2 linked regions of the Homo sapiens genome follow. The protein of the gene in region 1 purifies or fractionates together with the protein of each later gene. This does not show direct contact. Each region holds a gene or a part of one and is shown in the gene's direction. Other genes may lie near its edges.

Region 1 (4,479 bases):
TTTCCAGACTAGATTCTTTGGTCCCAAGTTGACCATCTGACAACAGAACAGCCATGGATAGTGTTAATTAAGGAGGGGGTTGCAGGGTTATTCTTGGGTGTTAACTTACAGGAGTTCTGCTTTTGTTCATCCTGGTTTATATTAATTGCAGCTTGAACTTTCCCAATATTAAAACAGTTAATGAATTATATGAAATATACTGGATATTTCCTGGTTTGTGCCCCAACCCAGAAACTCCTTAGAGTCACTAATATTATTTGCAGTACTAGCACCTTTCTTTGTACAATTCTTATAAACTGATTTCTGCTTACTGGTCTGGCTGAACTTTAAAAAATATATGTAATCTATGGGTTGATTATGCCTCTTGGCCTAAGGCTTCCAAGAGAAATACTGAACCGGGGAAGAGTATATATGAGAGTGTTTAAGGATGAGTCTCTCATTACACACGTACTAGTGGCAAACAGCAAATGATTTTTAAATGAACATGGGTGAACAGAAGTATGCTCAGTATGGATAATAAAAATTGATTCTATATTCTTTTTTAATTTTTAGATTTTTATTTATTTATTTATTTTTGAGCCAGAGCGTTGCTCTGTCATGTAGGCTAGAGTGCAGTGGGTGTGATCTTGGCTCACTTGCAGCCTCCGCCTCCCAGGTTCAAGTGGTTCTTGTGCCTCAGCCTCCCAAGTAGCTGGGATTATTGGCGTGTACCACCATGCCTGGCTAACTTTTTGTATTTTTAGTAGAGATGGGGTTTCTCTATGTTGGCCAGGCTGGTCTTGAACTGCTGACCTCAAGTAATCTGCCCATCTTGGCCTCCCAAAGTGCTAGGATTTCAGCTGTGAGCCACTGTGCCTGGCCCTGGTTGTATATTTTTGAGCCTTGTGGAATTACTAATAACCACAAGTCCCTTAGCAGCTTTTTCTTTTTTCTTTTCTTTTTTTTTTTTTGAGATGGAGTCTCCCTCTTTCGCCCAGGCTGGAGTGCAGTGGTGCGATCTCTGCTCACTGCAACTTCCACCCCCAGGTTCAAGCGATTCTCCTGCCTCAGCCTCCCACGTAGCTGGGATTACGGGTGCCCGCCACCGTGCCTGGTTAATTTTTGTATTTTTCGTAGAGACGGGGTTTCACTATGTTTGCCAGGCTGGTCTTGAACTCCTGACCTCAGGTGATCCACCCGCCTTGACCTGCTAAAGTGCTAGGATTACAGGCGTGAGCCACCATGCCTGGCCTTTTTTTTTTTTTTTTTTTTTTTTTTGAGACAGAGTCTCACACTATTGCCTATGCTGGAGTTCAGTGGCACGATCTCAGCTCACCTCCTGGGCTCAAGTGATCCTTCCACCTCAGCCTCCCTAGTAGCTAGTACTATAGGTATGCACCACCACACCGAGGTAATTTTTGTAGAGATAAGGTTTTGTTGTGTTGTCAGGCTGCTCTTGAACTCCTGGGCTCAAGCAATGCGCCTGCCTTGGTCTCCTAAAGTGCTGGGATTATAGGCGTGAGCCACCGCACCCAGCCCTTTCTTTAGAAATTAATTATGTATCATACACATCTGTTTCATATATCTAAGATGTGTTGTAAACTATCCGGATACTCAGTCTTGAATTCTCTGGCCCCTAATAGTAAGCCCCTTATGTTGCTTGGTCCTATGATGATTCTGTATTCCTCATTATCTTAGGTAGTTGCAGAAGAAAAGATTTTGGCCAGGTGTGGTGGCCTGTAATCCCAGCACTTTGGGTGGCTGAGGTGGGAAGATTGCTTGTTCTTGGGAGATTGAGGTTTCAGTGAGCTGTGATCATGCCACTGCATTCCAGCCTGGGTGACAGAGCAAGATCCTATCTCAAAAAATATAAAAATAAGGAAGAAGGCATTGTAAGGGATAAAGGATGCTAACTGTTCCCTGGTACTATGTTACTCCCGTTTCACGTTCCTGTAAAGGCTAATCATTGTTATGTTGGTATGTAGTATGTTACAGTGAAACCCAGCCAGAGCCAGGTACTCAAGGGCATGTTCGTACCATCCTGTTCAGGCTGTCGCACTCCACAGATTGAACAGGCTGTGGGCATCGTGGGAGCTGTCATCATGCCACACAACATGTACCTGCATTCTGCCTTAGTCAAGGTGAGCAAGGCCCTTATCTCCTTCACCTCCTAGACAGTTCATGGGATCTTTTCCTTCAATTGCAAGGGACACAAAGTTAGTTTACAATTATTAGGACCATGAAGGAGCAAGGTATTTTCCAAGCCTGGACATTTATAAACTCCATATACTTAGATGCTGTTTTTATCACCAAATTGACCAGAGATTACTAACTGCATAAAGCAGGTGGGGCTAAAGTTCTTTTTTTTTTTTTTTTTAAATTGAGATGGAGTCTCACTCTATTGCCCAGGCTGGAGTGCAGTGGCGTGATCTCTACTCACTGCAAACCTCTCCCTCCCGGGTTCAAGTGATTCTCGTGCCTCAGCCTCTTGAGTACCTGGGATTATAGGCGTGCACCACCATGCCTGGCTAATTTTTCTATTTTTAGTAGAGATGTGGTTTCACCATGTTGGCCAGGCTGGTCTCGAACTCCTGAGCTCAAGCAATCCACCCGCCTTGGCCTCCCAAAGTGCTGGGATTACAGGCGTGAGCTACTGCACCCAGCTGGGACTAAAGTTCTTCATAAAAGGTTGGAAGTGCATCAAGTCTCTTGTGTTTAAATTTCAAAAGCTCGAGTGGCCTTATGGAGGTCAGGAGTAAAGGAGCCCAAACAGGCTTTTACTGTCAGTATTATGTAATAGTTTGCTGGGAGATTTTAGAAACCTTTATAAATAGGTATATGCACACCTTAGGACTGAAATCAGGTCGTTTTTATAGGTCAGTGGTCCTTCCAGCCACTGAGAGTAACTGAGAGCTCAGTAGTCATTTAGTCTCTGTTCCCTATTTGGGGAATGTACAGTTCAACGAAAGGGCATGAAGTTCTTTTTTCTCCCCCCATATGAAGTTCTTAATTGCTCAGTGAACTAGGATGTAGGTGAGTGTTGGATCTCTCACTTTTCGTCTGGTCAACTTTTGTCCCCTAAATCTCTCAGCTGACTCCAAACTCCTGAAATGTCACAAGGAAACTTGTTCTAACTGGTCAAAAAGTGACTGCTGTTGTTATCTTTCTAGTCTAGACAGGTAAACCGGAACAATAAGCAGGAAGTTCGAGAAGCCAATAAGTACTTTTTCATTGAATCCTGCATTGCACTCTTTGTTTCCTTCATCATCAATGTCTTTGTTGTCTCAGTCTTTGCTGAAGCATTTTTTGGGAAAACCAACGAGCAGGTGGTGAGTAAGCCAGGGTTATGGGTGGTAGTGAATGTGAGGGTAAAGTGAAGACTGCAATGGGATGGGGAAGGAAAATACCTCATCCTAGTGTTAATGTTCAGGAGAAATAATCTCTAGCTTCTCGTCTGCCCCCCAAAATCACTGTGCACCAGTCAGAGTCTACAGTATGGGGCTGACCAAGCCTGGACCCTCTTTCTCAGCTTTTGTTTGGGAGTAGTCAACAAACAGAAAACAGAAACTGTGATGATGACAGACTTTGTCTTGTCATTTTGAATTCTGTATCAATCTTGATTTCTGATTACCTATGTAGTGTTTTTTTTGAGACGGAGTCTTGCACTGTCATCCAAGCTGGAGTGCAGTGGCACAGTCTTGGCTCACTGCCTCCACCTCCTGGGTTCAAGCGATTCTCCTGCCTCAGCCTCCTGAGTAGCTGGGATTACAGGTGCCTGCCACCACACCCAGCTAATTTTTTGTAATTTTAGTAGAGATGGGGTTTCACCATGTTGGCCAGGCTGGTCTCAAACTCCTGACCTCAAGTGATCCACCTGCCTCGGCCTCTCAAAGTACAGGGATTACAGGCGTGAGCTCCTGTGCCTGGCCTGCCTGTGTAGTTTTGATCACCATTTGTTTCCCGTCTATGGAACCTCTGACTCCTCTGTCTGCTTTGACTGAGGATTCTATTCTGGGTGTTCTCTCATGTCTGAAGCCTTCTTCAGAGCCTCTCCTCTTGTCATCATTTAAAGTACCCCAGCGTTTGTACATTATTACCATGCACACTGTAACTCAGTAAAGATTTTTGATGACCTGTGGGTGTAGAAGGATTATAGAGGAAGATCCTAGATAACATTGCTGCTAGTCTCTGCCCACATCACAGCATATGTCCAGTGTTTTCCCTCCAGCCTACCTCTTATAGATGATTGTGTATGATATGTAGGAGAGCTCTTATTTGGTCCTTGCTTCTGAAACAAAAGTTGCTGTTGAATTGCTTTGGGTTCTAGGTTGAAGTCTGTACAAATACCAGCAGTCCTCATGCTGGCCTCTTTCCTAAAGATAACTCGACACTGGCTGTGGACATCTACAAAGGGGTAAGCATGTTTGGATTTGTGATCTTTGTTCCTGAATCAGTATTTTTAGCATAGTATGTGGTCTTTTTTGTGACTTCACTTCAGAT
Region 2 (5,010 bases), on another chromosome or scaffold:
GTGTTCTCAGTTGTAAAACGGGGATAATAAACACGGTTACTGTGAGTACCAAATTAGTTAATACATAACGTAAAACACTTTAAACAGTGCCTGACATCTAATAAATGCTATCTAAATATTATAATAGAAATTTATGGTTAAAATAGAAGAATTAACTAAGTTGAAGGACTGTACAATAAGCCATCAATATGTTTCTCAATCCCAGACAGACCCCAGAATGAATTTTTGCAATCTACCTGTCAGTATATATGCACATGTATCTTATTGGAAAACTCAGCAAAATCATAAGATTTAGGTCCTGGCCCTCAACTATTTTCCTTAACAAAATCTACTTTAGGGAGATGCTGTGAAGGTAAAAATTAGCATGTCCCAGGGAAAGCTCATTGCACACTACAAAGGACTATGACAATAACAGGCTTTAGATTTATTTTCTACATTGGCTCTAGCATTTTAGAAGGGTACTTTTACTACTCAAGCCACTTTCCTGCAACTCTCCCCCGAATTTCCCTCCTTCACAGTGGCCAACCTCAAAGCGTTTTCAATGTAAGTGCCTTTCCTGTTAGTGAGACTTCCCTATGAAAATAAATAGTTTAAAGGTTGTTGGAGCCTAAAACTCACTAAGCCTGGAGAGAGATGTGACTGTCATCTGAGTTACACGTGGTTACAACTTCTGTTTCTCAGATTATAGATTAACTTGCTTTCTTATTTTTCTTGTTCTATACAATGGCTAGAGAGAATTAAACGAAGTTAAGGACAAAAACTTCCTGCCTTCTTAATGATCCTTATAGATTAACTTCTGCTTTGTTGCCCCGGTTTGCTTAGACCAGATGACAGAAAATCCTTTATGAAAAATGTTAAATGTACACTTCCCAAAAAGAAACACTGTCTATAATCAAATTGTTGTAACTATTCTCTAACCTTGTATGAGAAAATGCTGTAATCCTGCTAAAAAACCTCTCAGTTTCTGCCTATATAAGTGAAATCTTAAATCTCTACTTCGGAACGCTGACTCCTTCCTTGGAGTCGGTGTTTCTAGGTAGGCTATCCTCAAACTTCGCGCTTTTGATTATTTTACATTGACACCTCCTGTCATCCGCAAGCTCAAAGGCAAGGCTAATAAAAGATGGCAGAGAGCCAATTAGGGACAGAGCCATGTAATCCTCATACCCAGGTGAGTTTAGGGCAGTCTTGCAGAAGCAGAAGCAAATTGTGGGGTCACGAAACCCTCCGGACCCGCCCGCCTCCACCACCACGCGCCCCTATGACCTTCGACCCCTCCCTAGCCCCAGAGCACGCCGGGAGTTGTAGTTCCCAAAGGCCTGTTCGGGCCAGCGCAGGCGCTTGGGGTTTCCCTCCCACCCAACCCCCGCACTTTACCGGATAAGGAAGCGGCCCGTGCTGCCACGCAGTCGCCGGAACGCGGGCGGGGGCTTCTGGGAGTTGTAGTCTGTTGGGGGCGTGCGCAGTCGGTAAGGAGACGTAGCTTTCCGTGGGGTGTACCACTGCAGTTGGTTCCCGGCGGGAGACGCAGGGTCAGTCTGTGACTCTTCCCCTACCACGCTCCCGCAGAGGCTGAGGAGGCGGTTTCGACTTCTCCTCCGGCTTTCTGTCTTCGGCACTGTGTGCTTCTTGCTCCGCGGTTTATTTCTGTACCTAGTCCTCCCTCCCCTCTTCGGTCCATCTCCAAAGCCCGGGCTTGGCGGGGACTCGCCCTCCGGTAAAGGCAGGGCCGCGACCTCCTAAAACCCGGTCGCCGCCCTGCAGGAACCTTCCTCACTCGGCCCCTCACACCGGGTTTCCGCACTGACCCTCCTTCGCCTCGGTCCTCGCTGCGCTCACCTCCTTCCACTCTTTTTTTTTTTTTTCTCCTTTGCAGGGATGGAAGCTTCCTGGCGCCAGGTGGCCGGTGGCCGAGGCCGATCCCGGGGACGGGCCACTGCCGCCCCCTCAGGAAATGGAGTCCATCTCCGCGGCGCCGGAGGAGGGCGAGAGAAGGGGTCGGTGGGCGCAGTTCCTTCTGGCACCAGTCCCGGAGGAGTCGCGACCACGGCGGCTGCAGGGAGCAGGCACAGCCCCGCAGGATCCCAAGCCCTGCAGACTACCGCAGCCAGCGGTGAGAATGGCTCCCGCCCGCGTGCTCACCTGGATGCCTCCTAAGGCAGTTACTAGTCAGGACCGCCTCCGCCCTCGCCTTCTTTCTTTCACTGCTTTTCCCCTCGTTCGGGAGTTTGTTATCGGGCCCACTTCTCCAGCCTTTCGGGTGGCTGCTCTTTTCGGCACTCTAGGTAGATTTCCATCGCACCTCTTTCATCTTAATTTTAGGTGGTATTACCTTTGTTACTTCCCTCCACTCTTGCCTACTTGAATCTCCAGACCATCAGTTGTAAATTGTGGCCCGGTGTTCTGATTTGGTCTATAATGTTGTTTGGTTAACACAGAGTTTTAAATGTGGATTGATTGTCAGCGGTTGTTTGTCGTTTTTAAAAATCTGGTTAACAACCTTGTGGCTTTAGTTATCTTTGTGCATGGCAACAGTCAGCTCGGCTGAGTCACAGAAATCCCATTTAGATTGGACTTGGGCATTCCATCTCACATTCTCTCTCATTTCTGGAGCCAGGTGTCATTTGTCATCTTTACCTTTGCCTTTGTTTCTTGACTTGTCTTATTCCTTGTAAGCACTTGAGCTTTTGATACCTTCCTTGACTGTAGTTCCTATTTACAAATTCCATGTCCTTCTGTGGACATATCTGGTGTTGCCTCCGATATATCAATACTTTTCATCCAAGACCATGTTTTCGTGGAGCCAGGGAGGACTTACACACAATTGTGCATGGGGCCGAGGGAATAATCCCTGAAATCATTTTATTTTTGTGTTTGGAATGCATTTCAGGATACATTTTTTTGGGGGGTGTGGAGCAGAATTGAGTATCTTGAATGATTTTTCTCCTAGGCTAATTTGAAAGGTAGGTGGTATTCTCTTAGCATGCAGTTAATGGCCGTGATGATAAGGTATACAATATGGAGACGTGTGAACAGGTTTGGTAAACTTTTTTTTTTTTTTTTTTTTTTTGAGACAGAGTCTCGCTGGTCGCCCAGGCTGGAGTGCAGTGGCGCAATCTCGGCTCACTGCAAGCTCTGCCTCCTGGGTTCAGGCCGTTCTCCGGCCTCAGCCTCCCGAGTAGCTGGGACTACAGGCGCCTGCCACCACGCCTGGCTAATGTTTTGTTTTTTGTTCTTTGGTTTTTTTTTTTTAGTAGAGACGGGGTTTCACCGTGTTAGCCAGGATGGTCTCCATCTCGTGGGTAGAAGGAAAACAAGCATTCTGTCCGGGCGCGGTGGCTCAAGCCTGTAATCCCAGCACTTTGGGAGGCCGAGGCGGGCAGATCATGAGGTCAGGAGATGGAGACCATCCTGGCTAACAGGGTGAAACCCCGTCTCTACTAAAAATACAAAAAATTAGCCGGGCGGGGTGGCAGGCGCCTGTAGTCCCAGCTACTCGGGAGGCTGAGGAAGGAGAATGGCGTGAGCCCGGGAGGCGGAGCTTGCAGTAGCCGAGATTGCCCCACTGCACTCCAGCCTGGGCGACAGAGCAAGACTCCGTCTCAAAAAAAAAAAAAAAAGAAAGAAAAGAAAAAGAAAACAAGCATTCTCTACCTGGACAGTTGAGATTTGGCTGTAAGAAATAATACGTGAGAAGGTTGTCTTGTCAGCTTCTCTTTACTTTGAGATGATGTTAGGTGAATACATTTATCAGGTTATGAATGTTCTCATTATCTCTGTCCAGTTCAGCCTGTTTTCTTATGTATCTTTTAAGTGCTAATTTCCCGTATATTAATGACATTTATCATCTCTTTTGTGACAAGTTTTGAGTTATATATCTCATAGCCAGTTCTTTTTTCCCAGTACTCAAAGCTTGCTAGGTAAGCATGATACACATTTTCGTCGAGGTTTACTTGAAATACTCAATTTGTTTTGTTAATAACCCCTAACCAAACTGGCTGCAATAAGAAAAGGAAAATGTTTCATGAGGGAACATAATCAAGTACGAATATACCACCCAAGATAAGAGAGCTTATCTTGGTAGTGGCTTATCAGTTTTAAGTATAATGTTAATTTTAAAATAGTCAATCAGTAAATTTAAAATCCTCTCAAGATGGGAATTCATGAACTCAGATCAGTTCTGCAGGTTTGTGGCTCCTTTCTTAAACTATGTTTGCTGTCCGTAAGAGCTTATTAACACTTAGTGCTTGAAGAAAATCCCTGTGGTCCTTGCTCTCAAGAAGTTTGAAGTTTCTTTGGGAGTATGTGCAGTGAAGTAATCTGGTTTTGTTTTGCATGATTAATCAAGTAACAAAATGAGAAGTACAGGTAGTGCTGAATAGTGGAAGAACGAATCCAAAATTAACATTCTTTTTGGAATGAAGTTGGAAGAAACATGTTTTCCATGTTAATACTTTGTGTGGATTAATGTAAAATATGTTTTTTTGTGTGACCACAAGAAGTCCATAATAAAGGCAAAAAGTTCTTGACCTAAGAAGCCGATTGTAAATATAGTGGGTGCATAGTGAGTACTGTTGGTACAAACTCTTTGGTAGGGCTGGACTGGACTGGGCTGGGCCGTCGTGTCCTATCCTACCTGTTGTTCAGAAGACGGTAGTTTGAAATACCTACCTTCCCTGATTCTTTATGTGCTCACTGTGGACATGTTCCCTCACTTCTTAAAAATTACTGTGCACAATGTACTTTAAAACATCTTAATTTTTGTTAGTCCTTATTTTGAAGTTGATCACCAGTATTTTGATAGTTTTATTGTATTTTCATATTTTTTTTCTTGATTTGTTAATCACCGTTATCATAAAAATTTGCTGCATTTTAGCAGGATACTTAGAAAAGTGAAAGTTTTTGTTGTGGTATTCTCTTTAGTTGTGTGTCAAGGAATTTGAAAATACTTTTCTCGTGGATTACAGGAAGGTAGAATGCTCCAAAGGTGACTTTCAAATGTGTGTTGTA

Evidence for each region. The genes of interacting proteins can lie anywhere in the genome.
Region 2: the proteins of SLC11A2 (region 1) and NFXL1 purify together in Homo sapiens (affinity purification with mass spectrometry; one large-scale study listed by BioGRID and IntAct). This does not show direct contact.

What each region holds. Positions count from the first base shown.
Region 1 is NC_000012.12:50,994,458-50,998,936, reverse strand, and holds part of SLC11A2 (natural resistance-associated macrophage protein 2), read left to right. Parts: intron 1-1,964; coding exon 1,965-2,120; intron 2,121-3,149; coding exon 3,150-3,308; intron 3,309-4,306; coding exon 4,307-4,393; intron 4,394-4,479. UniProt on the Homo sapiens protein: Proton-coupled metal ion symporter operating with a proton to metal ion stoichiometry of 1:1. Selectively transports various divalent metal cations, in decreasing affinity: Cd(2+) > Fe(2+) > Co(2+), Mn(2+) >> Zn(2+), Ni(2+), VO(2+).
Region 2 is NC_000004.12:47,911,072-47,916,081, reverse strand, and holds the start of NFXL1 (NF-X1-type zinc finger protein NFXL1), read left to right. Parts: upstream 1-1,498; 5' UTR 1,499-1,717; exon of another isoform or gene 1,718-1,855; intron 1,856-1,876; 5' UTR 1,877-1,878; coding exon 1,879-2,113; intron 2,114-5,010.